Homo sapiens: one gene and its partner. The protein of the gene in region 2 interacts with the protein of the main gene of each other region in a pairwise test. Each region holds a gene or a part of one and is shown on either strand. Other genes may lie near its edges.

Region 1 (3,500 bases), on a different chromosome or scaffold from region 2:
GAAAGACACACAATCCACCCCTAACTCCTTTCCTCGTCTGCCACTCCTTATCCCCAGGATTACTTGTTCTTTTATGACTGCTTTTCTCCTTCAAAGCTTCTCATTGCTAGTTTTTATCAGATTTCAGGTGATTAAAAAAGAAGGGCATACTATGATTGCTGTGTTCCTCAGGTACATTCCTGTGTTTCTCTGACCTTTTGGATCCCCTAACCTAACTGACTTGGTGAACAGGTTCTGTGATGGGGAAGGGAGATGGACACCCTTCTCTAGGAGGGCTGGCAAAAATACACCAATCACAAATAGTCATCTTTGTTGTGCTTTTTGTTTAAGATTGTTTTCCTCTTTTGCTATGGTGGGTGTTGTTCTTCGGATTTTTTTTTTTTTTTGGTTGATAGTATTTTAAAACCAGTCTACATAACAACTAAAAAATGTGGGAAAATAGCTGTAGTTGAAAAAAAAAAAAAAAAAAAAAAGGCCGGGCATGGTGGCTCACGCCTGTAATCCCAACACTTTAGGAGGCTGAGGCAGGTGGATCATCTGAGGTCAGGAGTTCGAGACCAGCCTGGTCAACATGGTGAAACTCCGTCTCTACTAAAAATACAAAAATTAGCCAGGTGTGGTGGTGTGCGCTTGTAATCCCAGCTACTTGGGAGGCTGAGGCAGGAGAATCGCTTGAACCTGGGAGGCGGAGGTGGCAGTGAGCTGAGATCATGCCATAGCACCTCCAGCCTGGGGAACAAGAGCAAAGATCCATCTCAAAAAAAAAAAAAAGGAAAAAAAAAGAAAACTAGTTGGCCGGGCACAGTGGCTCACGCCTGTAATCCCAGCACTTGGGAAGGCCGAGGCAGGCAGATCACCTGAGGTCAGTAGTTCGAGACCACCCTGACTAACATGGTGAAACCCTGTCTCTACTAAAAATACAAAAAATTAGCCGGGTGTGGTGGTGCATGCCTGTAATCCCAGCTATTCAGGAGGCTGAGGCAGGAGAATCGCTTGAACCTGGGAGGCAGAGGTTGCAGTGAGTGAGATCACGCCACTGCACTCCAGCCTGGGCAACAAGAGTGAAACTCTGTCTCAAAAAAAAAAAAAAAAAAAAAAAAAAAGACAAGTCTACTGGGCAGAGCATCAGTTGAAAGTTCAGAAGATAGGCTCTGTCCCAGCAATTTTGTGATTCTAAGTAAATTGTGAAGTTTCCTGGAAAGGTTAGACTCACCCCTTACTGCCTGCATCAGTATGGTTCCGTGGAGGTGAGTGAGAATTACTGTGTTTCTTGGGAAAAAATACACTACAGAATATGGACATGCCGTTTACCTAGCAGGCCTCCAACTCAGAATAGAATACATGGGTAAGCTTAGTCTGTTCCCACTGGAGCTAGCAGCACTTAATTCAGGAAGAAAGACCTACTGATGTTAGTGGGTTTAAAGGTCAATCACAAGAAGAGCGCACACACATCAGTGGAAAGGAAGAAAACAGTAAGAAAATACCATTTTTGCTCTCAAAAGATCTTACAATCAGTAATTTGGAGGGACTTGACACTTAGCAAGAAATACAAACAAGTGCAAATGAATACAGCTGGCTATAGGGATTTGGATAAAGATAGATACCTGCTGATAGACAGATACGGATGGATTGGCTGTGAGAAACTGTGTAACCCAGTCTACACCAAGTAGGAGGATAGGCTTAAAAACTGGTACATCTGTGTTGTTTGCTCACGGATATTTTGAGTCTTTAATCATTCATGTGAAAACCCTGACTTTTCCTCTAGCCTTAGGGAGCTCAAGTACTAGAGAATGGGTCCTTTATGGGGCTCTCAAAAATGAAGTTCTACAATTTGGGGCTACCTAGGTTTAGTCTTGGGATTGGTAGGGCTGTGTTCCTTTGTATTATAGAATGGGACATTCTTCTTCTACCTACTCTGATGTGAGAAAAGATTCTTTTCATATCTCTGTGACTGATCTAGGCCTTCTGAGAATTCTCCCCAGCAACTTCTGAGGAGAATACAGCAAAGTATAGAAGAAAGAGCATGGGCTTTGAAGTCACCGACATGGGTTTGATTCTGGCTCTGTCACTGGTTCCTCACTGTGTGAGGTTGGGCTAGTCACAATCACAATCTTTGAGCCTCAGTTCCCTCACCTATATAATGAGGGTAATAATGCTTACCATTCAGGGTTGGTTGTAAATATTAAATGAAATCATGTATGTGAAGGGCTTGATATAAAGAAGGTATTCAATAAATTCATACTTCAATGTCATTTCTTTTTTCTTTTTTTTTTTTTGAGACAGAGTCTTACTCTGTCACCCAGGCTGGAGTGCAGTGGCATGATCTCGGCTCACTGCAACCTCTGCCTCCCAGGTTCAAGTGATTTGCTTGCCTCAGCCTCCTGAGTAGCTGGGATTACAGGCACGTGCCACCACGCCTGGCTGGGTTTCACCATGTTGGCTAGGCTGGTCTTGAACTCCTGACCTTGTGGTCCATCCACCTAGGCCTCCCAAAGTGCTGGAATTATAGACATGAGCCACCATGCCCCGCTCCATTTCTTTATGTTCCTTTGTAAGGCTCCGTGGAATGTGTGTGTTCACAAATATCCTTTAGGGATCATGAAGGGTAAACTGTGTGATCTCCTGGATTGGGGCTTGTAGGTACATCCGAATTTTCTGCCCTCTACAGAGATGAAAGAGATTATACTTCGAGCAGAATCTGCCTCCCTTTTAGATAGCTAAGGTAGCCCATGGGGCATGCCAGCAATGTCTTGTGGTATCTGTACCTCTTGGCCCAAAGGCTTAGGGTTGGGCCGCTTGCTCAGTTCTCTGACAAGCAGAATAGTATTCCTTTGTGACTCTGTTCTCCAAGTTGGAGACTCTGATGGTTTCCTTCTAACAGGTTTCATTGAAAACAGATCCTGCAAAAGTTCCAGGTGCCCACACTGGAAACTTGGAGATCCTGCTTCCCAGACCACAGCTGTGGGGAACTTGGGGTGGAGCAGAGAAGTTTCTGTATTCAGCTGCCCAGGCAGAGGAGAATGGGGTCTCCACAGCCTGAAGAATGAAGACACGACAGAATAAAGACTCGGTGAGTTAAAATGAGAGACATGAAAGATGAGGGGCGGGGCAGGCAAGCTAGGAGGAAGGGTCTAGAGAAGAAGAACAAATAATGTGCACCATAAAGTTAGGTGCAATGTAAAGAACAGTGTTACCTACCTCCTTCCTCCTCCTGTAGATGTCAATGAGGAGTGGACGGAAGAAAGAGGCCCCTGGGCCCCGGGAAGAACTGAGATCGAGGGGCCGGGCCTCCCCTGGAGGGGTCAGCACGTCCAGCAGTGATGGCAAAGCTGAGAAGTCCAGGCAGACAGCCAAGGTATTCTGTCCTCAGGTCCTCCCACAGGATGCCCAAGGCACTGGGGCTGAGGGTGTGTGTGTGTTGTGGGGGAACTTCCTGTTTGGCAGAGGGTAACGGTGGAGCTCGGGAGGTAGGGAAAAGACAGGAATTTTCTCTTTCTCTC
Region 2 (3,500 bases):
AGATAGATATAGAGTTGCCTTTTGGGCCATTTAGTCCTTAAGAAGTTCCCTTCTTGGAGTGATATAGACACCAGAATTGTTCCAGATTTTCAGAGTAAGGCACGTATGGGTCCTCTCACAAAGGTACACAATTCTGAGACCCTTTTAGGAGGAATGCAGATCTGGTTCAACTCTGTTGTTCAATCCAAGGTCATATATCTGTTACTGCCTTGTGTAGGAACTACTGGGGCTATGGAAATGAAGTAAAGATAAGTGATAAGTTGTTACTTTCTTTCTATTGAGGTTCCACATCTGTGGATTCAACCAACCATGGACCAACAATACTCAGAAAAAAATTCCAAAAAGTTACAGAGAGTAAAACTTGAATTTTCCATGTACCGAGTACTGCATTGAATCCATGTGAATGAATTGATGTTTAGACATTGTATTACTTATTATAAGTTATCTAGAGATGACTTAAAGTGTATAGGAGGATGTGCATACGTTATATGCAAACTATACTATTTTATATAAAGGACTTGAAGATTTTCAGATTTTGGTATCTGCAAGTGGCCAAACCATATGCCATCATCCCTCAGTGTCCAAGAGTATCACCAAACTCAGCAGTGTATTTTATCCGTTTCCTAAAGCATTGCCAAATAACTTAATTATCATAGATTCTATAAACTCTATGATTAGGCTGGAGTTTTGTTGTATTAATTTATTTATTTATTGAGATGGAGTATCGCTCTGTTGCCCAGGCTGGAGTGCACTGGCATGATCTTGGCCTGCTGCAACCTCTGCCTCCCAGGTTCAAGAGATTCTCATGTCTCAGCCTCCAGAGTAGCTGGTGGTACCCGCTACCACACCCGGCTTTTTTTTTTTTTTTTTTTGTATTTGTAGTGGAGACAGGGTTTCGCCATGTTGGCTGGGTTGGTCTCAAACTCCTGACCTTGGGTCATCTGCTCGTCTTGGCCTCCCAAAGTGCTGGGATTATAGGTGTGAGTCACTGCACTTGACCTAGGCTGGAGTTTTAAATGAAACATGGATTTTTAGAAGATCATGCATATTAGAAGGAGTGATAGGAAGCTAATATTTCAGGCAGCGTCAACTCTTAGTTCTTTAGGGGCTGCTCATGGTGCATGGTGGTTGGTCTAAGATCCTATTTTTTGTTTTTTCTACCCTTTGCTACCACCCACAAAAGGCAGACAAGGGGTAAATTTTCTTGAGAAATTCCAAAAGCTTGGAGGAAGAGGATGAAATAAATGACAAAAACAAAGGTTAGAATTACATGTGGATTCCATTTCCAGAGAGTAGTTCTGGTATGAGTAAGTCAGAGGAAGGTGTATGAAATGGAACCATAGTTAATGTAGAAAGATGGTGGAAGTCATTCCCTAGGTTTATCTATTATGTCTAAAATAGTGGCTCAAAATAATCTTAGTTAGATCAAAGGTTGAATTGATCTCCTGTATGGGGAAAGTACTTAAGACATGAAAGGATAAACATGATTGAGAAGGAAAAGAGAAACTCAGATAATTTTCTAGGAAACGATACTTGTTTTTCAATCATGGTGGTCTCTATGTAAGGGAAAGGAAAGGAAGAGTAATATCACTACTAGGTTGAGTTACTCTTTCGTGTGGATGTGACAGTAGACAGATCATATCAAAGTGCTGTATTTAGGGTTTTTTTGCACCATATTTTTGAAGGTAAACTGGAGTAGGCTGTATGAAAAGTGATCAGAAGAGAGGCTTGGAATCATATCATGAGGAGCTGTTAAGGGAACCTGGTGGTGCCAAGTGTGGTCAAGACGACAGGATAACCTCAAATGCTTGAAGATTAGGTTTGCTCAGGATGGATTACAATGAAAACCTAGGTATGGCAGGAAAAAAAGAAAGATTTCACAGCCAAAACCATGAAAAATGTTTCAAACAAGAGAGCTAACTGAGAAAAGTGGCTTTCCTTGGAAGATAATACATGTTCCTCCACTGGAGATGTACAAAGGCTAGATAATCACTTGAGGTTTCTTGTGAGGATATTCAAGCTTTATAATCCCTTTCCAGCAGGAGAGTCTAAGACTCTGTGATTATTGGCAATGACTGGGTGGCCTAGAAAAATAAAAAAGGTTATTTTACAAAATTCTGATCTTACCTGGGGTTTTGGTTACTTTTCCTGTCCTTCTTCTAAGCACAAAAGTGAATTCCTGGGGCATTCTGTTTGGGGGATCCGCTTACGACTTTTCTTTTTTTCTGACCCCAGCTCTCCAGAATTTTTCATCAGACAGAAGGCAGTGACTTCCTAGTTTGTAAACCACGACATTCTAGTTAGTGTGTGAAGAACATAGAGAGGATAGTGGGAGATAAATGTAAGTGCCTCGGAGTTCCTGATTAGATCGCCTGTAAACATCATAATGAGTCCTTGAGAACACATTCATTATGAGTGTTTTTGTGTGGGCTTGAATGGAAAGCACACACATTTATGAACACCCATGAGGTTCCTGAGTTACAGTTTAATGTCTCATTTGGTATTCATTAGACCATGACAGCCAATATTTCTTCAATTTAGAGTGATTCCACCTTGTGTAAAAAAAATAAAAAAAACAAAAAACAGATAATGCTAAGAATCAGTGAACTGCTCTGAGCATTTTTTTCTCTTCTCAGAAGGATTTTTTTTCTTGTTGCTATTAGCTTTGTTAGGATGATGCAATTGAATTACAGAAATTACATTCAGTAACTCTTGTTTGCAGCTAAATTATGCAGAGACAAGACTTAGTCAATTGGAAAACTGTCATTGTGAGAAGACTTGTCAAGTGAGTGGACTGCTCTATCGAGATCAAGACTCTTGGGTAGATGGTGACCATTGCAGGAACTGCACTTGCAAAGTAAGCCTCTTTGTAAATAAATACAGTAAAAACAGTTTTAAGGGGAGAGGTTTGATAATTAGAGTGTAACCTGGTTCTTTAATAAATAATATTAACTCTGAGAATTGTTAGGTTTTTACCTAGCACCCACTAGCCATACGAGCAATTGTGAAGCAATGCTGGAAGAGTGTCATGTCTTATATGAATACTTGGAAATTAAAATCTGCTTTCCCTTGCCAACACACCCTAATTTGATTTAATAGGCAATGTTTGGAGTTTGAAGGTTGGGATATAGTGGAAAGAAGGGACTCCTTTGATTTTCAAACAACCTAATGGTTATCCTTATTCACAACCAGAATAACTTTAAAAGGGGAGTTTAATTATTTTCTACATGTTTTTATTGTCTTTTGCAAAGTGTATCCATCACCTGTTTCAAATAATTGCAAGGCATTTCCTCCCTGACTCACTGTCAGTGTGAGGATATCCATTATTTGTATATCCCTTCATCTGTTTCAGTGAATTACAACATCCCCCTCCAAAAATTAGTATGGAAACCCTGTCCAGTTGAAATTACTTGATAAATATCTGAAGAATGCCATTGTTTGTCTAGGAAAATACAAAACAGATTGTTAGAGCCTCAGAAATGATTGACAGAGTCTGCAAA

The links.
Region 1: the proteins of NELL1 (region 2) and ATN1 interact in a two-hybrid assay, tested with the Homo sapiens proteins (one large-scale study listed by BioGRID and IntAct).

Annotation. Positions count from the first base shown.
Region 1 is NC_000012.12:6,930,959-6,934,458, forward strand, and holds part of ATN1 (atrophin-1), read left to right. Parts: intron 1-2,881; 5' UTR 2,882-3,043; coding exon 3,044-3,070; intron 3,071-3,217; coding exon 3,218-3,355; intron 3,356-3,500. UniProt on the Homo sapiens protein: Transcriptional corepressor. Recruits NR2E1 to repress transcription. Promotes vascular smooth cell (VSMC) migration and orientation. Corepressor of MTG8 transcriptional repression.
Region 2 is NC_000011.10:20,924,586-20,928,085, forward strand, and holds part of NELL1 (protein kinase C-binding protein NELL1 isoform 1 precursor), read left to right. Parts: intron 1-2,127; exon of another isoform or gene 2,128-2,211; intron 2,212-2,722; coding exon 2,723-2,857; intron 2,858-3,500. UniProt on the Homo sapiens protein: Plays a role in the control of cell growth and differentiation. Promotes osteoblast cell differentiation and terminal mineralization.